Homo sapiens: one gene and its partners. The protein of the gene in region 1 purifies or fractionates together with the protein of each later gene. This does not show direct contact. Each region holds a gene or a part of one and is shown in the gene's direction. Other genes may lie near its edges. The genes, in order: OR6T1, ESYT1, TSPAN10, GUCY1B1, SLC12A4, UBQLN4 and FNDC3B.

Region 1 (3,464 bases):
GATAGTGTTATGGTCTGGCATTTTGAGAGACAGCCAGCCAACTGATGAGGCTCTCCAGAACTGATAAGCAGTTATTCAGGTTGACAAAGAGAGGCTAGAGAACAGACTTTAGTGCATGTATTTTATCACAGTAGCCAGAAACTGATTTTGTGTGTTTGACGGACTTTATAAGTTACTTTTAATAATATTTAACCAAAGCTTTGGAAATAGCCACAGTAGCATGTTTTCCTTATCTGAAATGATTATGTTATCCTGAAACAGTGCTCTGGCCTCCTTTGCTGGGTTTTATTATGGTATTTCTTTGATTTTGGAGACACAAGCCCTAGACTAGCAGAATGAAGCATTATTATTACTTAGCTACTTAAATCCCAGACTTATTCTTTCCAAAATTGATGTAAACAGAACAGAAATATCCTTCAAACCTGGATTTCTTGCCTCAGTTCAATACTATCTGTTAAAGTAGCTTCAGACAGAATTGAGAAAATATCTGTGCTCCTCGTCTTTAACACTGTTGGTCTGAAGTAATAGATATTCCTCAGTTAAACTGTCTAAACTCTCAACACTTCATTCCTTGTCAATTAAACAATGTAACTTGATGCTCATTTTCATTCTTTTTGTCTTAGAACATTTTCCATTTTCCCTGATTAGGCCAAATCTATGTGATTCTGAGTATTTGGTGCTAGATGTTTAAAAAAAAAAAAAAGAACCCAAGATATCTAATTGTCTAATGAAATCCAGTCCTTCAAAACATGTGGATACATTTTACAGGATTCCAAAAGCTCCAAGGACAAGATGAACATATCTCCAAATTAAGGCAAAAGTTGAGAAGGCAAGTTGATATATACCATCTCCTTTGAGACCATTCTCCCTTATTCCTCATTTTATACTATTAGAATATTGAGCAAGCTGAAGGTAAGAGAAGCTAGTAAGCATTCCACAAGGAAGAAGGATTTCTAGCATTCTACAGGAGTCTGGATTGGGGGAAAAAAGAAAAATAACACTTTATGACAGGACTGGGCTTTGCACAATCCGGTCCTATTTGGCTTCATGGCTGACTAATGAAAATTAAATCTCTGAGTATACCGAGAGCCCAGATTTTTAAATTCTGTTATTTTATGTCAAGCCAGGACACAGAAGGACCATAAACACTAAAATGAGAGTTCTTAATACCAGTAAAATTTGTTCATGGTGCATTTGTTCTGTGAAGTCTTCTCTGACCCCTCTACTCCTCTGGACTCGTCTAAAGCCACACTACTCACACGGTTCTCTGCCTGAGCTCAACAGTATCAGCAGCATGTGCTGGAGTCACAGAAGCTCAGTATGAAATCCTGCCTCTACCACCTGTTTCCTACCTGATCATAGAAGAGTCACTTAAACTCCCTTCGTCATCCTTTTCTTATCTTTGAAAATAGTAAAACATAGTTTTAAGAGTAGCTAGGAGAAGAGATACTGTGCACCGTGTAAATTTTCAGATATATAATTGATGTTCAATATTGCCATGCTGCTTACTATTGTAATTTGTTTCTCTCTTTGTAAGTCACGTGCAGACCAAACTATAGATCAACATATTCTCAGAATGTAAGGAAGTGTTGGGTGTTCAATATTATTTTACCGATTGGTTAAATGATGATTGGTAGCTATAGACCAGTTACAGAGTTCTGTTTCATTTCCCCTGCAGGTGACTGAAGATGAACCCTGAAAACTGGACTCAGGTAACAAGCTTTGTCCTTCTGGGTTTCCCCAGTAGCCACCTCATACAGTTCCTGGTGTTCCTGGGGTTAATGGTGACCTACATTGTAACAGCCACAGGCAAGCTGCTAATTATTGTGCTCAGCTGGATAGACCAACGCCTGCACATACAGATGTACTTCTTCCTGCGGAATTTCTCCTTCCTGGAGCTGTTGCTGGTAACTGTTGTGGTTCCCAAGATGCTTGTCGTCATCCTCACGGGGGATCACACCATCTCATTTGTCAGCTGCATCATCCAGTCCTACCTCTACTTCTTTCTAGGCACCACTGACTTCTTCCTCTTGGCCGTCATGTCTCTGGATCGTTACCTGGCAATCTGCCGACCACTCCGCTATGAGACCCTGATGAATGGCCATGTCTGTTCCCAACTAGTGCTGGCCTCCTGGCTAGCTGGATTCCTCTGGGTCCTTTGCCCCACTGTCCTCATGGCCAGCCTGCCTTTCTGTGGCCCCAATGGTATTGACCACTTCTTTCGTGACAGTTGGCCCTTGCTCAGGCTTTCTTGTGGGGACACCCACCTGCTGAAACTGGTGGCTTTCATGCTCTCTACGTTGGTGTTACTGGGCTCACTGGCTCTGACCTCAGTTTCCTATGCCTGCATTCTTGCCACTGTTCTCAGGGCCCCTACAGCTGCTGAGCGAAGGAAAGCGTTTTCCACTTGCGCCTCGCATCTTACAGTGGTGGTCATCATCTATGGCAGTTCCATCTTTCTCTACATTCGTATGTCAGAGGCTCAGTCCAAACTGCTCAACAAAGGTGCCTCCGTCCTGAGCTGCATCATCACACCCCTCTTGAACCCATTCATCTTCACTCTCCGCAATGACAAGGTGCAGCAAGCACTGAGAGAAGCCTTGGGGTGGCCCAGGCTCACTGCTGTGATGAAACTGAGGGTCACAAGTCAAAGGAAATGATCTTATTAAATGGGAGATTAAATGTTTATTGAAAATTTTTTAAATGTGCAAGAAGTTTAAGGGATGTAGGCAACACTGTTCACTTTTCTCAGCTAATGAAAGAACAGTCTTCATAAATATACAACATGAAATACGGTGGTAAACCTTCATTTTCCCTCCCTACAACCTTCCTTGTGCCTCCTCCTCCCCACAGAGAAGGCTGATCCAATTGGTCAAATTTCTTTCAAGATGGAATCCTTGGATTGGAGAGCATGTGTGAGCACGTGACCCGCATACAGGGAGGCTCCTCCTTCTCTTCGTGTGTGCTTAAACACTTTTCTTACTGCCTCAGTCTCCTGTGTCATGTAGCCAATCAGAAGATGCTGAAATATGGAGATTCAGATTTGGAGCTCAGTGGGGAGTAAGAGGGTCTCTGAGGTCTTCCAACTAGACTGGGTACTGCAAATAAAATTAACCAGAACCTCTGTATTATTAGAAAATCAAATTCTGGCTGCAGTAATAAATGGTTCTCTGATTTGCATTTGTTATTGCTCCTTATGTAACTAGCAGCTCCTATAGGAATCTCATAAAGGAAGAATGTTAAGACCAGTGAAATATTTGGATAGCCCTAATTCCTAAGTCAAACTCTACTAACAAACTCAAATATGGCAACAAACTGAAATATGGCAACACTCATTTAATCATTCCTTTAAGAAATATTATTAAATCTCTAATATGGCAAGGCTCCAACTAGGGTGAGCCAAGGAAGATGTCTACAGAACAAATTTTAAAGAGACATGCACTTTTAGGGGAGTGTTAGCGCAG
Region 2 (4,116 bases), on another chromosome or scaffold:
CCAACTGTCGCTCCAGAATAATATTTTTTTTTTTTTTTGAGATGGAGTCTCGCTCTGTTGCCCAGGCTGGGGTGCAGTGGTGCGATCTCGGCTTACCGAAACCTCCACCACCTGGGTTCAAGCAATTCTCCTGCCTCAGCCTCCCGAGTAGCTGGGATTACAGGCAGGCACCACCATGCCCGGCTAATTTTTGTATTTTTAGTAGAGACAGGGTTTCACCATGCTGGCCAGGCTGGTCTCGAACTCCTGACCTCAGATGATCCGCCTGCCTCAGCCTCCCAAAGTGCTGGGATTATAGGCATGAGCCACTGCACCTGGCCTTAGTTCATAGGTACTTGTTCTTGAATGATTTTATATATGTGTGTCTTGTCTATGAAACTGGCCAGTAAGCATTGTGAAAGCAGATGCTATGTTTCGTGCTTTCTCCATGACCTTTAAAATGCTGAATGTTAACAATTTTATTGAGGCATAATTTACATACCATAGAATCACTCATTTTAGGTATACAAAAATTATTCTGAGGCTGGGCACGGTACCTAAAATGAGTGATTTTATGGTATGTAAATTATGCCTCAATAAAATTGCTAACATTCAGCATTTTTTTTTTTTGAGACAGTTTCGCTTTTGTTGCCCAGGCTGGAGTGCAATGGCGTGGTCTCGGCTCACCGCAACCTCCACCTCCTGGGTTCAAGTGATTCTCCTGCCTCAGCCTCCTGAGTAGCTGGGATTACAGGGATGTGCCACCATGCCTGGCTAATTTTTTTTGTATTTTTAGTAGAGACGGGGTTTCTCCATGTTGGTCAGGCTGGTCTCGAACTCCCAACCTCAGGTGATCCGCCCGTCTCAGCCTCCCAAAGTGCTTGGATTACAGGCGTGAGCCACCGTGCCCGGCCCAACATTCAGCATTTTAAAGGTCATAGAAAAAGCACAAAACATAGTATCTGCCTTCACAATACTCACTGGCCAGTTTCAGTTTCATAGACAAGACATACACATATAAAATCATTCAAGAACAAGTACATATGAACTAAGGCCAGGCATGGTGGCTCACACCTGTAATCCTAGCACTTTGGGAGGCCAAGGCAGGTGGATCACCTGAGGTCAGGAGTTTGAGAATAGCCTGGTCAGCATGGTGAAACCCTATCTCTACTAAAAATACAAAAATTAGCCAGGCATGGTGGTGCGTGCCTGTAATCCCAGCTACTTGGGAGGCTGAGGTAGAATTGCTTGAGTCCGGGAGGCGGAGGTTGCAGTGAGCCAAGATAGCGTCACTGCACTCCAGCCTGGGTGACAGAGTGAGACTCCGTCTCAAAAAAAAAAAAAAAATCAAAAATTTGCCAGGTGTGGTGGCATGTGTCAGTAATCCCAGCTACTTGGGAGGCTGAGGCAGAAGAATCATTTGAACCCGGGAGGTAGAAGTTGTAGTGAGCTGATTTCAAGCACTGCACTCTAGCCTGGGTGACAGAGCAAGACTCTGTCTCCAAAAAAAAAAAAAAAAAAAAAAGGAACAGAAGAATAGCAACAATTACATATGAATTTGTGGGAGTAAAATATCCATAGTATAGGACTAAGGAGGGTCAGAGAAAGGGATAGGCTGGAGTAACTAGGGAGATTTTGTGAAGCAAAAAATTGGATTTTAATTGAGTCTTGAAGGATGAGTAGGATTTAAATAGGCCGAGGGAAGAGAATGAGGACTTTCCAAATAGTGGGAGCAGAATGAACAAAGGTGGAAGGGGCCATGGATTGGGCAGAGGACTATAAAAGATGGCTCTGGCCGAGGTGGGCGGATTGCCTGAGCTCAGGAGTTTGAGACCAGCCTGGGGAACACCATGAAACCCTGTCTCTACTAAAAAATACAAAAATTTAGCTGGGCGTGACGGCATGCGCCTGTAGTCCCAGCTATTTGGGAGGCTGAGGTAGGAGAATGGGTTGAACCCAGGAGGTCGAAGTTGCAGTGAGCCAAGATGGCGCCATTGCACTCCAGCATGGGCGACAGAGTGAGACTCTGTCTCAAAAAAAAAAAAAAAAAAAAGATGGCCCTGAGTGGAGCAGGAGGTTTGTGATTGGTACAGAGAGGAATGAAGTTGGAGCCATGTTATCATTTTCACAGTATGCCTCCCTTTCCCCTAATCCCTTCACTACAGTCCTTCCTCCTGTGCCTGTAGGTGAAGGATGATTCCAGGGCCCTGACTTTAGGAGCACTGACGCTGCCTCTGGCCCGCCTGCTGACTGCCCCAGAACTCATCCTGGACCAGTGGTTCCAGCTCAGCAGCTCTGGTCCAAACTCCAGACTCTATATGAAACTAGTCATGAGGGTATGGAAATAGAGGAGGTACTGAGGTGTGGGGGAAAGGCCTGTTGATTCTTTGGTATTAAGAGTAAGGAAAGGGACCCCCCTAAGATTAAAAGAGCTAATACATGTAGAAGTGCCAAGCAGGCACAAAAACATATATTGATCTGACTGGTGGAAGGAATGGCTTATGAGTTGAGGGGGTGTGGAGGGAACCCTGTAGAGATGAGCCCAGCCAGGGCAGCACCTAGTTCCCCTGTCACAGCCCCTCCTCTACCCCACCCCACATGCTTTGCCTGCTGGTGACGAGCTGCACTTCTTTGATTCAGCATCATACTACCCTTCCTAGATCCTGTACTTGGATTCATCAGAAATATGCTTCCCCACGGTGCCTGGTTGTCCTGGTGCTTGGGACGTGGACAGTGAGAATCCCCAGAGAGGCAGCAGTGTGGATGCCCCACCTCGACCCTGTCACACGACTCCTGATAGCCAGTTTGGGACTGAGGTGAGTCTATATCTGGAAAGGACTAGGGTCTGTTTGCCCCGCTAAGTATGCAAAGCCTGTTTCAGGGCAGATTCTGACAGGTCTCTCTCCCTTTGCCATCTGGCACCCCCCCGTCCCTTTTGCAGCATGTGCTTCGGATCCATGTATTAGAGGCCCAGGACCTGATTGCCAAAGACCGTTTCTTGGGGGGACTGGTGAAGGGCAAGTCAGACCCCTATGTCAAACTAAAGTTGGCAGGACGAAGCTTCCGGAGCCATGTTGTTCGGGAAGATCTCAATCCCCGCTGGAATGAGGTTTTTGAGGTCAGAATTGAGTGGCTGTGACTCCTGGTTCTGCCCCATTTTTCCCCCAATCCCAAAAGTGGTCCAGAAACCTCTGAGGTTCAGTTGACTGGGGGGTCCAGTCATTTGCAGAGGAAAAGGAGAGAATCTTTCATCTGCACTATTTTCTCCCACTAGGTGATCGTCACATCAGTTCCAGGCCAAGAGCTAGAGGTTGAAGTCTTTGACAAGGACTTGGACAAGGATGATTTTCTGGGCAGGTGAGAGCATAGGAGTCTACGTGAAAAACAGGCTGGGGCTCTTTAGGCCATGGAGTCTGGCCTCCTTGGTTCTCACCATCTAGCTTTTGTCTTAATCTTTCTCTTCAACAGGTGTAAAGTGCGTCTCACCACAGTCTTAAACAGTGGCTTCCTTGATGAGGTGAGCATTGAATTAGAGTCAACAACCCCTCCTGATCCTGCCCAAGCTTCATTCTCAAAGTTCTCCTGTCTGCATATCCCCAAGTCTTCACCCTGCCTACTTCCACAGTGGCTGACCCTGGAGGATGTCCCATCTGGCCGCCTGCACTTGCGCCTGGAGCGTCTCACCCCCCGTCCCACTGCTGCTGAGTTAGAGGAGGTAGGGCAGGAGACTTGAGGAAGGAAGGGACCCAAGGTGGGGCAGGATGAGCTCTTCTCTTAGCGTTCAAGGCACATGCCAGAACCCAAGGTGTCAGTTACCACTCCCCAGCCCCGTGTGCCCCTCCACAGGTGCTGCAGGTGAATAGTTTGATCCAGACTCAGAAGAGTGCGGAGCTGGCTGCGGCCCTGCTATCCATCTATATGGAGCGGGCAGAGGACCTCCCGGTGAGATCCCGCTCCCCATGCCCCATAACTTCCTGGCCCTTCTTCCACCTTCCTCCGGTTTGGATGGTCCTGGAGTATTTAGAATAAGAAAAATGGCCCCTCTCTTTCTGAGGGTAGTGCAGGGGTGGGAAAAGTTGTCTGTTCAAGGCCACGGGTAGTGGCTGCCAAGTAATAATGGAGACATGGCTGCTGGCT
Region 3 (4,116 bases), on another chromosome or scaffold:
ACTGCGCTCCAGCCTGGGCGACAGAGCAAGACTCCGTCTCAAAAAAAAAAAAAAAAGAAAAGACTGGGGTCTCACTCCCATCGCCGAGGCTGGAGTGCAGTGGCACAATCGTGGCTCACTGTAGCCTCGACTTCCCAGGCTCAGGTGATACTCCCACCTCAGCCTCCTCAGTAGCTGGGACCACAAGTGCTCACAATCACACCTGGCTAACTTTTTGTATTTTTAGTAGAGATGGGATCTTGCTATGTTGCCCAGGCTGGTCTCTAACTACTACTAGGTTCAATCAATCCACCCACCTCAGCCTCCCAAAGTGCTTAGATTACAGGCATAAGCCGCTGTACCCAGCCAGGTTTCTTCTTATACCTCTCTCCTTAGCTCGAAGATGGCACCTTCTCCCCGAGACCTCACATGTTTTTTCTTCTGTGCACACATTCCTCGTGTCTCTCCATGTGTCCCACCGTGTGTCCCAATTTTCTTGTAAGGATGTTGGATTAGGGCCCACGCTAATGGCACTTATTTATTTATTTAGGGATGGAGTCTTGCTCTGTCACCAGGCTGGAGTGCAGCGGCACCATCTCGGCTCACTGCAACCTCTGCCTCCTGGGTCCCAGCAATTCCCCTGCCTCAGCCTCCCATGTAGCTGGGATTACAGGCATGCGCCACGATGCCCAGCTAATTTTTTGTACTTTTAGTAGAGACAGGGTCACACCATGTTGGCCAGGCTGGTCTCAATCTCCTGACCTCATGATCCACCTGCCTCGGCCTCCCTAAGTGCTGGAATTACAGGTGTGAGCTACCGCGCCCAGCCCCTAATGGCCTTTAAAGGCCCTGTCTCCAAGTCCCATTCTGAGGTCCGGGGGGCTAGAACTTTATCATAAGAATGTAAGGGGCACAATTCAGCCATAACAGTGGTAGATGATGATCGTTTCATTAAAAGATTACCCAGACTTTGGCCGGGCGTGGTGGCTCACGCCTGTAATCCCAGCACTTTGGGAGGAGGAGGCGGGCAGATCACTTGAGGTCAGGAGGTCGAGACCAGACTGGCCAACATGGTGAAACCCCATCTCTACTAAAAATACAAAATCAGTCAGGTGTGGCGCCTGCAATCCTAGTTACTCAGGAGGCCAAGGCAGGAGCATCGCTTGAACCCAGGAGGCAGAGGTTGCGGTGAGTCAAAATCGTGCCACTGCATTCCAGCCTCAGCAACAGAGCGAGACTCTTGTCTCAAAAAAAAAAAGGTTACCCATCCTTAGAACAGACTGAGTTGGAGGCCGTGGACAGTCCCTGTGACCGTGACCCTGGCTGTGGAGCTGCTGCAGGGCCCATGAGGTTGGGTTTGTCACCTTTGGGGAGGTGAAGGGAAGCTGGAGCCCAGAAGCTCAGCCTGCAGCTCTGGTCCTCGCCCCGACTTCCCACCTGCAGCATATCCCACTTCTCCGAGGAAGATCTGAAGACTCAGAGTGGCCTTCAAGGCCTCACCTGATCCAGCCCTGTCACCTCATGGACCTCCCTCCCACCCCCATCTCCGCTTGCCCCACACAGCCAGGTGACCTTTCCTCCTAAAACTTGCCCGGTGTGCTCCCACCCAGGCGTCTCACGCGCGCCTGAAACCCTCTGCCTGCTCCATCAGTACATTGCCTGCTGTGCTGCACCACCCAGACCACCTCTTTGGACTGCTGAGTGTTGGTGGCTGAGTCCGGGCACAGTGGCTCCAGCCTGTAATCCCAGCACTTTGGAAGGCCAAGGCAGGAGAATCACTTGAGTCCAGGGGTTCAAGACCAGCCTGGGCAGCACAGCAGAACCCTGTCTCTACAAAAAAAATTCAAAAATGAGTGAGGCAAGGTGGCGTACATCTGTAGTCCCGGGAGGCGAGGTTGCAGTGAGCCGAGATTGCGCCATTGCACTCCAGCCTGGGCAACAAGAGCGAAACTCAGTCTCAAAAACAAAAACAAGGAGGTGATCTGGTGGGGGGACGCTGTTTCATTCGTGCAGTGAACAAGCCGGGGGATAGATTGGCGCTGGGGCTGCCCATGGGTCTCTTGGGATTGGGGTTGTGAACCAATTTACCAGGGTCTGATTCCCTGGTTGGGAGCTGATGGAGCGGCTGCTGACCCTGCAGAGCTGAAGTCCGCATGGGGGGCTGCAGTGAGAGCCACAAGGCTGGCACCCAAACATGCCTGCCTGAGTCACACCTGCGCTGAGCTTAGGGGACCCACAGAGCCAGGGCTGGGGAGAAATATATCTCCACAAGCAGAGGCCTCCTTAAGCTCTAAAATGTGATTCTTCACATGACTCAACTGTGACTCCGGCATCTGGGTAGGGCTCGCACCTCCCCCATTCCCATGCCCAGGGCTGCACTGTTCACAGACTAGCCCAGGGCCGCAGTCAGGACCAGCCCAGCAGCCCAGCCACAGAGGAGCCAGCGAACCTCTCCCGGCGCCTGTGCTGGGGGCTTTCTGTTCCAGCGTCAAGGATGGAGGAGGGGGAGAGGAGCCCCTTACTGTCCCAGGTGAGCCATGCCAAGTGGCCTTGCCCTGAGGTTGGAGATGTCCCCAGCCCTGAAGTCCTAAGGGAAGTCCCTGGGCTGGGTTCACACCCACCCCTGCCCCTGGTGCCACCCCACACCTCAATGCTGAGATTGGGTTGAGGGGGGTGGTTCTAGGCAGCCCCCTCCCCCTTCCCCACTGCGCAGTTCTCTCAGCCCCATGCTGGCCTCTGGTCAAGGGATCTGCCAGATCTCCCTGAGGGCCTTGGGGGCAATCTTTGGCTCAGGGTGCAGGAGGGGGTGAAGGCAAATGTCCCTTGCAGCCAGCCTCCAACGGCCTCTGGCCCCCAGTGGCCCCAGTCTGGCCAACCAGGCACTGACAGCCTGTCCTTTTGCTTCTAGTGACTTGTTGAGGTCTTGGGGGTGATAAATAACCCTCCTCTGGGGCCGGGCACAGTGGCTCACTCCTGTAATCCCAGCACTTTGGGAGGCTGAGGAGGGAAGATTGCGTGAGCCCAGGAGTTCAAGACCAGCCTGGGCAATGTAGCGAGACCCTGTCTCTACAAAATATTATATATATATATATATATATATATATTTAGATAGAGTCTCGCTCTGTCACCAGGCTGGAGTGCAGTGGCACAACCTCGGCTCACTGCAACCTCCGCCTCCTCGGTTCAAGCAATTCACATGCCTCAGCCTGCTGAGTAGCTGGGATTACAGGCACATGCCACCACACCCAGCTAATTTTTTTTAGTCGAGACAGGGTTTTACCATGTTGGCTAGGATGGTCTCGATCTCCTGACCTCGTGATCCACCCGCCTCGGCCTCCCAAAGTGCTGGGATTACAGGCATGAGCCACCGTGCCCGGCCTACAAAAAATAATTTTAAAAAATTACCGGGACGGCCGGGCGCGGTGGCTCACGCCTGTAATCCCAGCACTTTGGGAGGCCGAGGCGGGCGGATCACGAGGTTAGGAGATCGAGACCATCCCGGCTAAAACGGTGAAACCCTGTCTCTACTAAAAATACAAAAAATTAGCCGGGCGTAGTGGCGGGCGCCTGTAGTCCCAGCTACTTGGGAGGCTGAGGCAGGAGAATGGCGTGAACCCGGGAGGCGGAGCTTGCAGTGAGCCGAGATCCCGCCACTGCACTCCAGCCTGGGCGACAGAGCGAGACTCCGTCTCAAAAAAAAAAAAAAAAAAAAAAAATTACCAGGACATGGTTGCAGTGCCTGTAGTCCCAGCTACTCAGGAGGCTGAGGAGGAAGGATGGCTTGAGCCCAGGAGTTTGAGGCTGCAGTGAGCTGAGAGCCTGATGCTGTGATCAGCTTCTTCCTGGTGAAACTGGATTGGAATGGGATCCTTGCCCAGCACACAGCCATGGCTGCTTTTTATTATTTATTTAGTTTTTGAGATGGAGTCTCGCTCTGTCACCCAGGCTGGAGTGCAGTCACGCGATCTCTGCTCATGCAACCTCTGCCTCCTGCTCATGCAACCTCCACCTCCTGGGTTCAAGCGATTCTCCTGCCTCAGCCTCCCAAGTAGCTGGGATTACAGGTGTGTGCCACCACGCCCGGCTAATTTTTTTTTTTTTTTTTTTTTTAGTAGAGATGAGGTTTCTCCACGTTGC
Region 4 (4,907 bases), on another chromosome or scaffold:
ATGGAAATTGCTGGCCAGGTTCAAGTAGATGGTGAATCTGTTCAGGTTAGTAAATGAAGTAGATATTGTAATAATGGTATGTAAACCTTTTTGGACAATTGATTCATATCGTTGTCCGGAAAATCATTAACGTGTATAAAGAAGGGCATCTTGACAACAAAGACTATAGCATTTCATCCAGCCCACTGTACTACATTCTTTCATAGACATGGAGATTTATCTACCTGTTTGAAATTATCTAGTCCGTTTCATGTACTGAAAGTCATGGGGATGAGAAAAAAACCTCTTGTACCTTCTAGTTTATTTTTTAAAACCTCTTTCATGTCTCATGTAAGTTACTAGATTCACATCTTTGAAATCTTCAGACTTCAAATGTTTCTCTTGAGATAGGATATTTCCCTGGGGAGATAGAGATTTCATGGAGGGCTTTTGAAGTTGTCCATAATATGCTTGAAATTCTTATAGACATCTCTTACGATGTTATATGATGACTCTACATTATTCTGTAATATAAAGTAAGCAAAAATTCATGTGTTACAGGAACAGAAAACCAAACACCACATGTTCTCACTCATAAGTTGGAGCTGAACAATGAGAACACATGGACACAAGGAGGGGAACATCACACACCGGGACCTGTTGGGAGTTTGGGGGCAAGGGGAGGGAGAGCATTAGGACAAATACCTAATACGTGCGGGGCTTAAAACCTAGATAATGGGTTGATAGGTGCAGCAAACCACCATGGCACATATATACCTATGTAACAAACCTGCACCTTCTGCACCTGTATGCCAGAACTTAAAGTAAAATAAAAAAAAAAAAATTCATGTGTTAGTGATCAAAATGATTGAAGCAAAGCTTTCTTTTTTGCAGATAACAATAGGGATACACACTGGAGAGGTAGTTACAGGTGTCATAGGACAGCGGATGCCTCGATACTGTCTTTTTGGGAATACTGTCAACCTCACAAGCCGAACAGAAACCACAGGAGAAAAGGGAAAAATAAATGTGTCTGAATATACATACAGGTGAGAGAAAATGTCTTGGTATTTACTGATTTGCAAAGAAAATGTGTCTTTGCATGTGGTTTAATTCTCTGAGAGATTTTGTTGCTTTAACAGAGTTATCACCTTCACTCTTCCCCACTGCTTGTAGAGTTGTTTACTTTTTATTTGAGAAGATTGTGTCATTATTTCCATTTTATATGATTTCACATCATCTTAGGAAATCCTGATATGATCATTGTTTCTAAAGCTTTGAGTTACCTTTCAGTACAACTTCAGCATTTGTTCTTGCCATCTTGGTTTATAACATGATACATGTCACCTTCTCTATAAAACTTGTGTATACTTCTCTCTCTACTCCCCTTCCCTTGTCTTTTAGATGTCTTATGTCTCCAGAAAATTCAGATCCACAATTCCACTTGGAGCACAGAGGCCCAGTGTCCATGAAGGGCAAAAAAGAACCAATGCAAGTTTGGTTTCTATCCAGAAAAAATACAGGAACAGAGGTATGACTAATCAAAGTGTAATTTGCGTACTTAAGACAGAGTATAAGTATGGAAAACTAAAGCAAAATCACTGAAAATGTATTTCATTTGAAAAGAATTCTTGCTAACAGAAATTAACTTCTAAGTAAAGCAGTGGAAATAATTGAACATTAATGAGCCAATTACAATCATAAGTACTTTTTAGGGGATACTTTAGTGATTTTTGTCCTCTAATGAAATGAAAACCAACAGACTGGATTGAGAAGGCTGCTTTTTTTCTTGCTGTTGTGGTTGTTTTGCTCTTCCTCTGTAGTCTGGCTCAAAGGTAAGTGGGCTGTGAGGGGCTCCCCTGACCCCTTTCCTCAGCTCTCTAAGTTGGCTCTGAGATCACCACAGATAAGGGCTGTGGTTCATGGGAGGTTTCTTAACCATGAAGCTTAAGATCCTTTTAAGGGGCAGGCTATCTTTCTATGGAGTGATTGGGGAATTTTGGAAATCCTAGTCCCTCATGTGTTTCTCCTAGATAGATGAGTGATTTTTAACTTGCTAGAATCTGATTAATTCCTTAGGGAAGATTTAAGTTCTTTCTACTACTATGGTTATACTCCAGGCAGAGCCCATGTGCTAGAATGGACTTCAGAACAGTGGCACATCCAAAGTGGAATCACACCTCTCATAGAGGCCTTGCACACACTAAGATCATGGCTAGCCTCTTCCTAGCCTTTTGTAAGGAGTGGCATCAGAAGCAAGTTTGATACTTTGTTACCCTGTTGATGTGTTGTTTCCTCATGGGGGATAAGACTGCATGCTCATATTTCTCTTTTAGTGTGTATAAACTCTCTAAAGATGCTTTTAGGGCATAACAACTTCTAAAGGGAATAGAATGCCAGGGTTTGAAATATTTATCTTCTTTCACCTGGTTTAACATTAAATCATTTTCCTATGAGGTGGACATGCTTATTGATGTTCTTCTGATAAACTAAGCCGTAATTACCTCAAACATTGGTCATCTTAGTCGTGCGGTCCTGTTTTTCCCAGAATTATGGTGGGAATGATTTACAGAAACTGTAGATGTGAACGTGGATCACACTCTCATAAAGAGAAAAATATATTTAATTGATATTATAAACCTCACTATCACTGTAAATCAATCCCTCTTTTCTTCTGCCTATTTAAGGAAACAAAGCAGGATGATGACTGAATCTTGGATTATGGGGTGAAGAGGAGTACAGACTAGGTTCCAGTTTTCTCCTAACACGTGCCAAGCCCAGGAGCAGTTCTTCCCTATGGATACAGATTTTCTTTTGTCCTTGTCCATTACCCCAAGACTTTCTTCTAGATATATCTCTCACTATCCGTTATTCAACCTTAGCTCTGCTTTCTATTACTTTTTAGGCTTTAGTATATTATCTAAAGTTTGGCTTTTGATGTGGATGATGTGAGCTTCATGTGTCTTAAAATCTACTACAAGCATTACCTAACATGGTGATCTGCAAGTAGTAGGCACCCAATAAATATTTGTTGAATTTAGTTAAATGAAACTGAACAGTGTTTGGCCATGTGTATATTTATATCATGTTTACCAAATCTGTTTAGTGTTCCACATATATGTATATGTATATTTTAATGACTATAATGTAATAAAGTTTATATCATGTTGGTGTATATCATTATAGAAATCATTTTCTAAAGGAGTGAATTCTAAGTTTTAGGGGAAAAAATGCAATTTATTTTCAGACTCCCAAAGTAAGAATTAACATATCATGCTAAGAAAATAGTGACTATTTTGAAGTATGCTACTTCCCTTTCAGAAATATAGAATACACGTTTCTGTTATTAAAGTATTTGATTACTAATTCAAATCATATGGCAATTATAATTCTTCTAAAATGCTATCATTTGTAACTGTATCCCCTGTATTAAATCTCATTAACCACAGGCAGCTGTTACAGAAAGCTGCATTGTTTCACATTGAGCTGTTACATTAGTTCAGGCTAAATGTTGGGAGCTCCAACCACATCCAAGAATAAATCTGGAAACACACTGCTGGGATACTGCTGTTAGAGCCCTTCTTGGCCTTGTATTCCCAGAAATGAGCTCCCTTTCCTTAGCTTAGAAGAATGTGATTATATCCAGGACATCATGTTCAGAAAACTTAGTTTACTTTCAGCATAGAATGCATTACTGTTGGAATAATTGGCCTCTAGCTCTTAAATGTCTCTGATAACTTATTAATATCTATCTTTATAAAATAGAGTGCAACTACTTTTGTGTAAAAATGTTTGCCTTTAAATTTAGTATTTCATATCAGCACATCGATATATGTATAAATGTTCCATGTTAATGTGTAAAAGAGTCTGTAATAAATTATTTTTTTCACGTGTCTCTATACAGTTTTTATTTCAATAAAAATATTAACATTATTTTTCATTTTATTAATGCCATTATTTTGTAAATACATTTTACAATTTTGCCTATTTGCTACCATTATAAATTTTCACTGACTCCTCATAGACAGCATATTCTTAAATGCTATATTTCTTTTTAATACCAACAGAGTGACAGGAAATAAAGACTGGGCATGGAAAGGGGAAACAGTTAAATATTGAATGTCATCAGCTTATTTAAAGAGCTCTGAATCATTTAGGGATGATAGACATGTATACAAGTAATGAAAATATGCGATATTCATAATGAAGAAATATATTCAAATGCAGAAATAATACTTAGAGAAAGAGTAACTTGAAAGAAAAGAGGTGAAGTGGGGATAGTTGTTATGCTTATTTTGGGGGGAGAGTTAGGAATACTCAGAAACTACATTGACACTGTCATCTTCCCAGAATCCTGCATATATTTATTTAGCATCTACTTTGGGTAGGTACTGCTCAAGATATTTGAGAAATGTCATTGAACAAAACATCTCTGCCTTTGAATACCTCATATTCCAATTTTTACATCTTGCATGTTTTTAAATCTCTACTTTATTCCGCCAACACTCTTCGAAGTCCAGGCACTCATCATGTGTAACTTGAACAATTGCAAGATCTTCCCTATAAATCTGTCTATTTCCTACCTTTGCCACCTCCATTCCACACTCTCAAATTGCTGCCAGAGTGGTCTTTTACAAATCCAAATTGCTCTCCTGCGTACAATCACTTAAATGCTACTCATTGTCTGTACACCTTAGCAAAGCATGTAAACATTGTCACCTTAACCAGCCTTATCTGCTAGTTGCTACCTTTGTAATTCTATGCTCTGCTCTGTCTGAATACCCTCTACCCATACTCTGCTGCAAATTCATTTCTTGCTAAGACTCAGCTCAATATCCTCTTGTTGGAAATTTCCCTGTTAGGAAAGTTTAGCTTCCCCTATTGTCCCAGGATCTTTACAATGGTTCACATATTATCTGTTTATATAT
Region 5 (4,116 bases), on another chromosome or scaffold:
CAGCTGTAGTGGACAATGAGACAGTGGCCACCCAGCTATGGAGTTTCTTCTGCCACAGCCCCAACCTTACGACCGACTCCTGTGACCCCTACTTCATGCTCAACAATGTGACCGAGATCCCTGGCATCCCCGGGGCAGCTGCTGGTGTGCTCCAGGGTGGGTCCTCCCTCCCGTCGTCTTGCTCTTGAGCCCACAGGCTGAGCAGGGGCACAGAGCACAGAGCTGTCCTTGTGTGGCCAGCTTGGGAACGGGGGCAGGACTGGCCGCCTTCCCAGCCCCCCAGTGTCCTCCCAGCCTGGCTCCTGGCAGCCGAGTTTGGAGTGAGTGGAGCCTGTCTGGCCAGCGTCCAAGGCCTGCAGCAGCCTGTCTTCCCCAGCCACCAGCCCCTGACACTGCCTGGGGATGTTCCCACAGGATCCATAAAGGCCTCTGTGGAAGGCGGGCAGTGGCGGGCTCTGGGTGACGGTGGTTCAGCCACCTTTGTCTGTCGACTTCTAGCTGGGCAGCTCCTTCTCTGTGGTCAGGGTAGCCCTGTGGCTGACGCTGCAGTCATTGGGCTGAAGCTGTTCCCTGAGTCCCCAAAGTTGCCCTGCATCTGCGCCTCTGGCTAGGCTGCCCCAAACTACCTGGGGTAGTGGGGGGCAGCTGTGGTGGTGACACAGCTACCCCTGCAGAAAACCTGTGGAGCGCCTACCTGGAGAAGGGTGACATCGTGGAGAAGCATGGGCTGCCCTCCGCAGATGCCCCGAGCCTGAAGGAGAGCCTGCCTCTGTACGTGGTCGCTGACATCGCCACATCCTTCACCGTGCTGGTCGGCATCTTCTTCCCTTCTGTAACAGGTGAGCCCTGCCTGCCTACCCACCCAGCCCTGTCCCCAATCCCGGGGAGCCCCTGAGGGAGTCTCATCTGTTTTTGGAGGCATCATGGCTGGCTCAAACCGCTCTGGGGACCTTCGTGACGCCCAGAAGTCTATCCCTGTGGGGACCATTCTGGCCATCATTACAACTTCCCTCGTGTGTATCCTTTCCCAGGCCTGGGGCAGGTGGGGCAGAGGACGGGAAGCGCTTGGCCTGTGTACGTTGCCAGGTCACATGCACAGACACCCCACACACTCATATATAGCTCCCCTTCTCATGCACACATGCACATACACACCACGAGACTCCCAGCTGTAGGTGTCCTGGTAGTCTGGCTGGGGTGGGGGCACGTGGTACTATTCAGGGACAGTGGGGTGGCAGAGGCCGAGTTTTCCTTGACGCCGCCGCAGACTTCAGCAGTGTGGTTCTCTTTGGTGCCTGCATTGAGGGTGTGGTTCTCCGGGACAAGTGAGTGAGCTGGGCCCCCCTCTTTAGCAGCGGCTGGGCTTTGGCCTGCCCTCACACCAGCTCCCAACCCCGTGGGTGGTCCTAAGCCTGCTGGCTGCCTTTGGTGGTCTGTGCCATCCTTCCGGACCCCTGACATCCCTCACTCTGGTGGCCCCTGCAGGTATGGCGATGGTGTCAGCAGGAACTTGGTGGTGGGCACACTGGCCTGGCCTTCACCCTGGGTCATCGTCATCGGCTCCTTCTTTTCAACGTGTGGCGCTGGCCTCCAGAGCCTCACAGGGGCACCACGCCTATTGCAGGCCATTGCCAAGGACAACATCATCCCCTTCCTCCGGGTGAGCCCCTCTGCACTCCCCCATGGCCTGGCTGCTCCCAGGCCCTCGCCCGGCTGGGGAGAGAGATAGGGAACACAGATGCAGCACGTCCTGCCCTTATTGGCCCCCGGGGCCAGGCGGCCATCCATGAGGAGCTACTGAGAAGTGCCCTGGGCCTGGCACTCACCTGGGCCTGGAGCTGCCTGGACCCAGAATCTTCATGGCCTGTTTAGGGCTCATCCAAAGGAGAGAGGCCTGGTGAGGTGGAATCAGGGAGACTGGTGACACCCATAGGGATAGACACAGGGGCGGCCTGAGCCCCCAAGGCGGGCCCTGGGGGTGAGGGAGGCCAGGCTGGGGTCTGGGGCCCAAGGTGTGGAATGGGGGTGACAGGACCCAGCTTCCTTCCTGGTGCACACAGGTGTTTGGCCACGGGAAGGTGAATGGTGAACCCACATGGGCACTCCTCCTGACGGCACTCATCGCCGAGCTGGGCATCCTCATCGCCTCCCTCGACATGGTGGCCCCCATCTTATCCATGTGAGCTGGGGCCGGGCAGGGCAGGGGGATGGGGAAAGGCTTCCTGAACCCCAGCACCTCCCCGTGGCTGCGTCTGGTGTTGGAGGTCCAGCTGGGAGATGTGGCAGGCTGCATGGGGAGATGTGGCCTGACAGGGCTCAGCCCACCCCTGCATTTAGGAGCAAGCCTGGCACCTATGCCAAAGCTATAAGGTGACCAATATGTCCACACCTCCCTGAGGCCCCCAGAGCAGGTGGCCGGCAGACCTTCCCACTGGACAGGGCAACCACCGCGTCCCTCATGCCTCCATGAAGCCACTGCTGCCCCTTCCATCTGTTAGTTTGTTTTTTGGTTTTTGTTTTTTTTTTTTGAGACAGAGTCTCACTCTCTCACCCAGGCTGGAGTGCAATGGCATGATCTTGGCTCACTGCAATCTCCGCCTCCTGGGTTCAAGCAATTCTCCTGCCTCAGCCTCCTGAGTAGCTGGGATTACAGAAATGCACCACCACGCCCAGCTAATTTTTTGTATTTTTAGTAGAGATGGCGTTTTACCATCTTGGCCAGGCTGGTGTCGAACTCCTGACGTCAGATGATCCACCTGGCTCGGCCTCCCAAAGTGCTGGGATTACAGGCGTGAGCCACCATGCCCAACCCATCCATTTTCAAAGTCATTTGCTTTTAACATTCTGGAATCAGCCAGGCAAATCTGCGTGCCAGTGCCTTGCAGGGAGTGGCCAGCATGTGGTGACTCCCAGGGACCCCGAGGCAGCGCTTGTTTGGTTGACTCTGTCCAGGCTGGGGTCCTCGCCCACCCTGCTCCGTGGCTGACGCTCCTTCTTGCTTGTGCGGTTATGAAAGGCCTCCTCTTCCCTGCCCACTCAGCCTGCAGACTTGACAGGGGCCCTGTACCCCTGAGCAGGCTCCATCCCAGCTACAGCCAGGCCTGCTGGAGCCAGCACCCTCTTGTCCACCCCCCCACACCCCTTCCTCTCACCCAAGAGCACACCTGAAACTGTTTTGCCACAGCCATCTTGGGTGGTGACCCCCCTTGTGCCCAAATCAGAGGCTACATCTCAGCCTTTATCTCGGGCCTCCTGCTGGGAGCCCCTGCCCCCTGGCATGCCCTGTGTGGGTCCTCCTGCCTTCCTGCGCACCCGTCCTCGGGTGCCTTCCTGGAGGGCTCATGCAGCTGGCCCTGCCCATGCGTGGGACTCCCACGCCCACCGCAGTGACTCTTAAGTATCTCTGACTGGTTGCATTCAAATGGTCCAGCTTATCTTCCATCCTCCCCTTCATGCATGGCAGCCTCTCATCCAGCTGGTCACTCAGGCCAGAGGCCTGAATGTGGCCTAGAGTCTCCAGGCACTGAGCTCTTCCTGCTGCCCCTGCACCACCCTCTTCAGCTCTGCCCTGTTACTCCCCTTCCTACCTCCTCCAACAGCAAACCCTTGCCCATCCTCTGCGATCTGGCTCCGAGGACTCCTCCACAGTAGTCTCATTGCCTCAGGCCATGGAGGTGGCAGCAATGAGGTTGAGAAGACCTTGCTGAGCCATGCAGGGCAGGGCCGGGCCACGCCCCGTTTCTGGGCCAGGCCCAGCCTGACATCAGGTCCCCAGCTGCCGAGGAGGCTGCTCTTCGCCAACCGCCCTCTGTGCCGCAGGTTCTTTCTGATGTGCTACCTGTTCGTGAACCTCGCCTGTGCGGTGCAGACACTCCTGAGGACCCCCAACTGGCGGCCCCGGTTCAAGTACTATCACTGGTGAGCCATGCCTCTGACACGGGAGACCCTGGGGAGGCCAGGAGCCTCATTCTGGGTGAGGCTTGGGTTTCCTGGGTAGGGAGCTCTTGAAACACTGTGGGGAGGGAGATTATAGGGCTGCGGGGGACTGGACCTAGGTCTTACACCCAGTGACCTGACCACCCACCTGGGACCTCCCACCCGGGACCTGACAGGGCT
Region 6 (3,500 bases), on another chromosome or scaffold:
TCAACCTCCCGAGTAGCTGGGATTACAGGCACGCGCCACCACACCCGGCTAATTTTTTTGTATTGTTAGTAGAGATGGGGTTTCACCATGTTGTCCAGGCTGGTCTCGAACTCCTGACCTTAGGTGATCTGCCTGCCTCGGGCTCCCAAAGTGCTGGGATTATAGGCGTGAGCCACCACACCCGTCCAGAAAGGGCTTTTATACTGCAAGTCAGGGGGCCTTAGTGACTGACTTTCTCTGTGACCCCAGGCAAGTCCTGTCTTTTCTCTGGATCGAACATTGTTCCTTTCAACACCAGGTGGACGGTGCTTGCTGGACTCTTTCTAGCTATAAGAGTCTTTTTTTTTTTTTTTTTTTTTTTTGAGACGGAGTCTCGCTCTGTCGCCCAGGCTGGAGTGCAGTGGCCGGATCTCAGCTCACTGCAAGCTCCGCCTCCTGGGTTTAGGCCATTCTCCTGCCTCAGCCTCCCGAGTAGCTGGGACTAAAGGCGCCCACCACCACGCCCGGCTAATTTTTTGTATTTTTAGTAGAGACGGGGTTTCACCATGTTAGCCAGGATGGTCTCGATCGCCTGACCTCGTGATCCACCTGCCTCGGTCTCCCAAAGTGCTGGGATTACTGGCGTCAGCCACCGCACCCGGCCACTATAAGAGTCTTTTGTTCATAATCAAGGCTTGTGCTTTCCAAATACCCCTTGGGCAAACATTTACAGGAGATAATTAGAGGAATGACAAGAATGAAAAGCCAAGCTAGCCAGGCGGTGGCTCACTTCTGTAATCCCAGCAATTTGGGAGGCCGAGGCAGGCAGATCACCTGAGGTCAGGAGTTCAAGACCAGCCTGACCAACGTGGAGAAACCCCGTCTCTACTAAAAATACAAAATTAGCTGGGTGTCGTGGCGCATGCCTATCATCCCAGCTACTCGAGAGGTTGAGGCAGGAGAGTCACTTGAACCTGGGAGGCAGAGGTTGTAGTGAGCTGAGATCGTGCCATTTTACTCCAGCCTGGGCAACAAGAGTGAAACTCCATCTCAAAAAAAAAAAAAAAAAAAAAAGCCAGGCCAGGAGTGTGGCTCATGCCTGTAATCCCAGTGCTTTGGGAGGCCAAGGCAGGGGACTGCTTGAGGCCAGGAGTTCGAGACCAGCCTGGGCAACGCGGGGAGACCCAGTCTGTAAAAATTTTTTTCTTTTAAAAAAAGTCTTAGTGCAAGCTGGGCATGGTGGCTCATGCCTGTAATCCCAACATTTTGGGAGGCCAAGGCGGGTGTATCACTTGAGGCCAGGAGTTCAAAACCCACCTGGCCAACATGGTGAAACCACGTCTCTACTAAAAATACAAAAATTAGCCGGGCTTGGTGGCATGCACCTGTAATCCCAGCTATTCAGGAGGCTGAGGCAAGAGAATCGCTTCAACCCGGGAGGCAGATCATGCCACTGCATCCAGCCTGGGTGACAGAGCGAGACTCCGTCTCAAAAAAAAAAAAAAAAGAAGAAGACCTAGTGCAGTGGCTCATGCCTGTAATCCCAGCAGTTAGAGAGGCCAAGGCAGGAGGATCACTTGAGACCAGCCTGGGCAACATAGCAAGACCCTTTCTCTGCTAAAAAAATTTTTTTCTTTATTTTTTATTTTATTTTTATTTTTTTGAGATGGAGTCTCACTCTGTCCCCCATGCTGGAGTGTTATGGCACAGTCTCGGCTCACTGCAACCTCCGCCTCCCGGGTTCAAGCGATTCTCCTGCCTCAGCCTCCTGAGTAGCTGAGACTACAGGCTCCTGTCACCATGCCCAACTAAGTTTTGTATCTTTAGTCTCGGGGTATCGCCATGTTGGCCAGTCTGGTCTCGAACTCCTGACCTCAAGTGATCCACCTGCCTCAGCCTCCCAAAGTGCTGGGATTACAGGCATGAGCCACCACGCACTTTTGTTTTTTTAAGATGTACTCTGTCTTCCAGGCTGGAGTGCAGTGGCGCAATTTCAGCTCACTGCACCTCCGCCTCCCGGATTCAAGTGATTCTTCTGCCTCAGCCTCCCAAGTAGTTGGGACTACAGGCATGCGCCACCACACCTGGGTAATTTTTTGTGTTTTTAGTAGACATGGGGTTTCGCCATGTTGGCCAGCCTGGTCTTGAACTCCTGACCTCAGGCAAACTGCCCATCTTGGCCTCCCAAAGTGCTGGGATTATAGGCATGAGCCACTATGCCCAGCCAAAAAAAAATTTTTTTTTAATTGGCTGGGCAAGGTGGTACACACCTGTAGCCCCAGCTACTCAGGAGGCTCAGAGAGAAGGATCACCTGAGCCCAGGAGATAGAGGCTGCAGTGAGCTATGATTCTGCCACTATATTCCAGCCTGGGTGCAAGACCCTGTCTCAAAAAAAAAGGAAATACTTCTCTTTTATAAATAACTGTTGATCAGTGAAACAAAATTAAATAGCTTCTTAACTGGGACCCTTCTCTAGCCTTTCATATGGCTGTACGTGTGATGACTATTAGGAGGGGCCTTGGAGGTCATGCTTAGTATGCATCTTATTTGACCATAGAACATTTGGCTTTTGGAGTGCCTGTTAACATCTCCAGTGTTTATGGAAAGTAATGAGGAATATATGCTGATCTAGGCCTATCAGTTATCTTGAAAATCTAAAAAAGATATCCGCCTGCCATATTATTACACAGTTTTGTTTGTTTGTTTTTTTGTTTTTGTTTTTTGAGACAGAGTCTCGCTCTGTTGCCCAGGCTGGAGTGCAGTGGCGCGATCTCGCCTCACTGCAAGCTCCGCCTCCCGGATTCACGCCATTCTCCTGCCTCAGCCTCCTGAGTAGCTGGGACTACAGGGCGCCCACCACCACACCCAGCGAATTTTTTGTATTTTTAGTAGAGATGGGGTTTCGCCGTGTTAGCCAGGATGGTCTCGATCTTCTGACCTCGTGATCCGCCCGCCTCAGCCTCCTAAAGTGCTGGGATTACAGGCGTGAGCCACCGTACCCGGCCATTACACAGTTATTTAGGACTTGGGACCTAGGCTCCTGGGCCCCCATTTGCAGCTCATCTTCCCTGCCCTCCTGATTGACTCTGAGGATATTAGAGAAGACCTGCTGGTCTTAGAAACCCTTAATTCAAATAGGGCCCCCAAGATTGGTCCTGTGCCCACTTCACAAGGCCTGTCCCCTCCAGGTGCAGACGCCAGAAGTGAGATTTCAGCAGCAGCTGGAGCAGCTCAACTCCATGGGCTTCATCAATCGTGAGGCTAACCTGCAGGCCCTGATTGCCACAGGAGGGGACATCAACGCAGCTATCGAGAGACTGCTGGGCTCCCAGCTCTCCTAATCCCTCGGCCCATGCCTCCTGCCTCTCCCCTCCCTCGATGTCAGCATTCGGTTCTTCTGTCAATCCTTACCCTCTGCAGCTTGTCCTCCCTTCCGTCTTCTCCCTCATCCTTTCCAAACAGCAGGGTGACTTTAGAGGCATGGGCTCCAACCCCTTAGCTCTGTCTGAGAATTATGGTT
Region 7 (4,116 bases), on another chromosome or scaffold:
CTGTGTTGGCCAGGCTGGTCTCGAACTCCTTATCTTAGGCAATCCACCCACCTCAGCCTCCCAAAGTGCTGGGATTACAGGCATGAGCCGCCGCACCTGGCCCTATTTTATTTTTAAATTTCTAAATCTCAAAAAAAATTTTGTGGGTACATAGTAGGTATATATATTTGTGATCGTGCCTTTCTTTTATATGTATTTGAAATATTCTGGGGCATGTTGCTCTCTTTCCCATTTTAGTTAATTGAATACAAGCACAGTAGGATTCTCTTCTCAGTGGCATTATTAACTACTTCCATTTCTGCCTTTCCAGAGTCCTGATAGTTCTGGTGCTGACATCTCAGAGTACAGGTTGGAATGGGGAGAAGATGAAGAATCCTTAGAACTCATTTATCATGGGACAGACACCCGTTTTGAAATAAGAGACCTGTTGCCTGCTGCACAGTATTGCTGTAGACTACAGGTAGGTTGACATTATTCAGATGTTACTCACAAGGACTGCTGTCCCATGAAAGGCACTTTGGGAAACCCACTCAAAGGCTTGTGGTGGAGGCTGTCAGGAGGGATGATATGGAAAAAAAGAGTCCATTTAAATAAAAATATATTTGGTTGTTTTGGTGTTTTGCAGTTAATTTCCACTTCTCTAGGAAATTCTGAAACTTAAGAACAAAATAAGATTCTTCTCCATTCTGCTTCTCACCACCCTTGTATCTTGTCTGTTCATCAGTTTGCTGAATAAATGACCCAAGTCCAAGGGAAAGATGACACAGCTCCTTAGGGAAGGAGCCTTCTGTCTCATTCCCCTGAGATGTACATTTCAGTGGGAAAGACTCTTAGAACTGGTAAAAGACAGAAAATTATTTTACGAGCTGTTAAATGGAGCCAAAAATAATCTGGACTAGTCTGCATTAGATTACAGGACCCCACCTCCCACCTCCCAGTGACGGTTATCAAGGCTGGTTATCTATAAGCTTCCACTTGGGAGTCCAGATAGAATAACATCAAGAAAAATTGGTTCATAGCCTAACCCCTCAGAGTGACAATAACCATGGGTTTACTTTTATTTTACTCTCTTGGCTATATTATTATTTTTTCTGTGTAAAGCCTTAGTCTCTTGAGAAAATAGAGTTCTTTGTCCTCCTCTTTCCATTTGTTCAGTAACATTTCTTGAGCATTATAGTACTTTGTACCAGGATCAAAGGAAGATCAGGAAGAGAGATACAAAGATTAATCAGATGTGGTTGTTGACCTTGAAGAGCTCTGTCTTCATACACATTTAGATTTGAATAGATAAAGAAGCAAAGATGCCAAAGTCAAGTTCCCACCTGATTTAAGTCATGGATCAAATTCGTTATTATAAGTACACCCAATGTCTCTGGTCTCTTTGGAGAAAATATTCGCTTCATAACTTAATTTTTCAGATCAACTGAAGCATTTCTGTTAAATTCAGAAGTCTGCTGTATTTGAAACATTTCTGATTAAACTCTTTTGTTATACACCTTTCTTGCTTCTCGAATGAAGCACCTGGGACATAATTAACCTTTTGACAATGAGTCAGTGTCACAGCAAATTGTCTGATATTTATAATAGTGATGCTGAGTCACTGGGGAAAGGTTAAATTATGTGCCACACTCTTGTTTTTCTACCAAGGCAGGATATAAATAAAGAGCTGTCTGCCACCCCAGTAAAGAGCTTCACTCCATTATGGTTTTTGAGTTTTGGTGTTTCTTTAAAATGTTATTATATCTCCTTCTCTTTCAGAGTCTATGTTGTCTTAGCATTGACTTCCCAAAGCTGCATTATAAAAGATACATTAATAAGAATAGTACCTGCATAATCTTGCCTCGTTGTATTAACAGGAGTAGAAATATATTTTCAAAGGTCTGTGCTTATTTATAATAAAATGAGTCAGATCTTATGAAGGGAGTACTACTTTTAAGATTACCATTGCCACACTAAAGGACTATTGCCAGGAAGGGGGTCTGTTCAAACTATACCAATTTATTGTTATTTGTGGACCAAATATGAATTATTTTCATTCAACATGATTACAAAGTCAAGTTAAACCCCAATATTTTTTGAATATATGGCACTTAAGAATTTAAATATTGGCCGGGCATGGGGGCTCACACTTGTAATCCCAGCACTGTAGGAGGCTGAGGCCGGCTGATCTCTTGAGCCAGGAGATAGAGACTAGCCTGGACAACATAACAAAACCCCTCCTCTACAAAAAAAAAAAATACAAAAATTAGCCAGGCATCTGTAGTCCCAGCTGCTCAGGAGCCTGAGGCAGGAGGATCACTTGAGCCAGGTCAAGGCTGTAGTGACCTGTGACTGCACCACTGTAGGCCAGCGTGGGCGACAGAGTGAGAGCCTGTCTCAAAAAAATAAAAATTTATTATAATACCTGTACTGTGTTTTATAGAAATGTGGTGGAACATTTCTTGTTTTGCTCAGGAATTTTTGAATTTTTGTATTTTCAGGACTGTTTTAATTAAGTACCAACGTAATTCCATTCATAGGGCATGTTGTATATTATAGGCATACTATTATTTACAAAAAGTTGATTTTGAATTAAATTTCATTTGAAAACTGTTAATAAAAAGTGGTGTAAATCAAGAAATGTTTTCCATAGAGCCAAGCTAGTTAAAAAGAAAGTAGGATCCTGCAGTAGAAAAAGAACATTGGAAGAATTGGTAAGATTCTGATTAGGTCTGTATGTTAATAGTATAGTATCAGTGATAATGTTTTTCTTTTCTTTTTTTTCTTTTTTTTGAGATGGAGTCACGCTCTGTCACCCAGGCTGGAGTGCAGTGGCGCGATCTTGGCTCACTGCAACCTCCGCTTCACAGGTTCAAGCGATTCTCCTGTCTCAGCCTCCCGAGTAGCCGGGATTACAGGCGCCTGCCACCACGCCTGACTAATTTTTGTATTTTTAGTAGAGATGGGGTTTCACCAGGTTGGCCAGGCTGGTCTCGAACTCCCGACCTCAGATGATCCACCCGCCTCAGCCTCGCAAAGTGCTGGGATTCCAGGTGTGAGCCACCGTGCCCGGCCACCAGTGATAATTTCCTGGTTTTGATCATTATTCTATAGTTCTGTAACATGTTTCTCTTCGGAAAAGCAGAGTAGGAGATAGACAGAAATTTCTCTGTACTATTTTTGCAACTTTTCTGTAAGTATAAAAGTAGTACACAATAAAAAGGTGTTTGAAAAAATAGAGAAAATACTATTTTGTTCATAATTTTCCCAGTGGGAAGGAAGAAAGTGTAGCTCCTACTGTTGGCCTGATACTCTGCCAGCATTTTACATATTAACCGATTTAATCTTTACTGTAATTCTATGAATTAGGCATTACTGTCCCCATTTTACAGCTGAGGAAACAAGCTCAGAGAAATTAACTAACCTAAGATCACACAGTTGTTAAATGATGGAATCAAGGTTTGAACTAAGCTTCAACTCTTAAAAGCCATGTTCTTGTCCTTCTGTGATATGGTGATACAAAGCCCTAGTTGATAGAAACATTGGGCTCCATGATATCCTATTTTTCTGCCCCTGTGATACATTTATATCAGTACCAAAATCTCGAAATACATACTTATAAAATAATTTGTCATGTTAAAATTTTTCCAGAAAGAGAGTTGAGGTATTGAGGTATTGTAATGAAACAGAAGTGGGTATGACAAAATGTTGCAGTAGAGTTTCAACTGTGATTTAATAGCAAATAAATGCTTTAAGCCTGCTTCTTTGAAATTAACAAAGGAGTTATAAGTTTTGTTTTAGACCTTGATTTAAGAGCTCAAACTTAGCTGGGTGTGGTGGTATGTGCCTGTGGTTCCAGCTACTCAGGAGGCTAAGGTGGGAGGATCACTTGAGCCTGGCAAGCAGAGGTTGTTGCAGTGAGCTGAGATTGCGCCACTGCACTCCAGACAGAGACAGACCCTGTCTCAAAAACAAAAAACAAAACAAAACTCAAACTCCTTTAGTTTTGTAATTCAACCTCATAAGCTGTCCAATAAGCTAAATGAAAACTAAGTTTTAGAGTACATTCACTTTTGTAAGAAAGCTGCCAAATGTTTTTCTCTTTGTAAGAAAGAAAATCTTTTTGATAACATTTAT

What was found.
Region 2: the proteins of OR6T1 (region 1) and ESYT1 purify together in Homo sapiens (affinity purification with mass spectrometry; one large-scale study listed by BioGRID and IntAct). This does not show direct contact.
Region 3: the proteins of OR6T1 (region 1) and TSPAN10 purify together in Homo sapiens (affinity purification with mass spectrometry; one large-scale study listed by BioGRID and IntAct). This does not show direct contact.
Region 4: the proteins of OR6T1 (region 1) and GUCY1B1 purify together in Homo sapiens (affinity purification with mass spectrometry; one large-scale study listed by BioGRID and IntAct). This does not show direct contact.
Region 5: the proteins of OR6T1 (region 1) and SLC12A4 purify together in Homo sapiens (affinity purification with mass spectrometry; one large-scale study listed by BioGRID and IntAct). This does not show direct contact.
Region 6: the proteins of OR6T1 (region 1) and UBQLN4 purify together in Homo sapiens (affinity purification with mass spectrometry; one large-scale study listed by BioGRID and IntAct). This does not show direct contact.
Region 7: the proteins of OR6T1 (region 1) and FNDC3B purify together in Homo sapiens (affinity purification with mass spectrometry; one large-scale study listed by BioGRID and IntAct). This does not show direct contact.

The regions. Positions count from the first base shown.
Region 1 is NC_000011.10:123,942,063-123,945,526, reverse strand, and holds OR6T1 (olfactory receptor 6T1), read left to right. Parts: upstream 1-1,688; coding exon 1,689-2,660; downstream 2,661-3,464. UniProt on the Homo sapiens protein: Odorant receptor.
Region 2 is NC_000012.12:56,134,579-56,138,694, forward strand, and holds part of ESYT1 (extended synaptotagmin-1), read left to right. Parts: intron 1-2,165; coding exon 2,166-2,315; intron 2,316-2,639; coding exon 2,640-2,795; intron 2,796-2,920; coding exon 2,921-3,097; intron 3,098-3,253; coding exon 3,254-3,336; intron 3,337-3,447; coding exon 3,448-3,496; intron 3,497-3,604; coding exon 3,605-3,694; intron 3,695-3,825; coding exon 3,826-3,921; intron 3,922-4,116. UniProt on the Homo sapiens protein: Binds calcium (via the C2 domains) and translocates to sites of contact between the endoplasmic reticulum and the cell membrane in response to increased cytosolic calcium levels.
Region 3 is NC_000017.11:81,639,940-81,644,055, forward strand, and holds part of TSPAN10 (tetraspanin-10), read left to right. Parts: intron 1-2,320; exon of another isoform or gene 2,321-2,367; 5' UTR 2,368-2,473; coding exon 2,474-2,509; intron 2,510-4,116. UniProt on the Homo sapiens protein: Part of TspanC8 subgroup, composed of 6 members that interact with the transmembrane metalloprotease ADAM10.
Region 4 is NC_000004.12:155,803,720-155,808,626, forward strand, and holds the end of GUCY1B1 (guanylate cyclase soluble subunit beta-1), read left to right. Parts: coding exon 1-45; intron 46-873; coding exon 874-1,028; intron 1,029-1,383; coding exon 1,384-1,510; intron 1,511-2,666; coding exon 2,667-2,690; 3' UTR 2,691-4,092; downstream 4,093-4,907. UniProt on the Homo sapiens protein: Mediates responses to nitric oxide (NO) by catalyzing the biosynthesis of the signaling molecule cGMP.
Region 5 is NC_000016.10:67,947,863-67,951,978, reverse strand, and holds part of SLC12A4 (solute carrier family 12 member 4), read left to right. Parts: coding exon 1-156; intron 157-674; coding exon 675-839; intron 840-918; coding exon 919-1,017; intron 1,018-1,267; coding exon 1,268-1,325; intron 1,326-1,485; coding exon 1,486-1,660; intron 1,661-2,060; coding exon 2,061-2,179; intron 2,180-3,819; coding exon 3,820-3,918; intron 3,919-4,116. UniProt on the Homo sapiens protein: Mediates electroneutral potassium-chloride cotransport when activated by cell swelling. May contribute to cell volume homeostasis in single cells. May be involved in the regulation of basolateral Cl(-) exit in NaCl absorbing epithelia.
Region 6 is NC_000001.11:156,036,799-156,040,298, reverse strand, and holds part of UBQLN4 (ubiquilin-4), read left to right. Parts: intron 1-3,168; coding exon 3,169-3,321; 3' UTR 3,322-3,500. UniProt on the Homo sapiens protein: Regulator of protein degradation that mediates the proteasomal targeting of misfolded, mislocalized or accumulated proteins.
Region 7 is NC_000003.12:172,346,902-172,351,017, forward strand, and holds part of FNDC3B (fibronectin type III domain-containing protein 3B), read left to right. Parts: intron 1-310; coding exon 311-460; intron 461-4,116. UniProt on the Homo sapiens protein: May be a positive regulator of adipogenesis.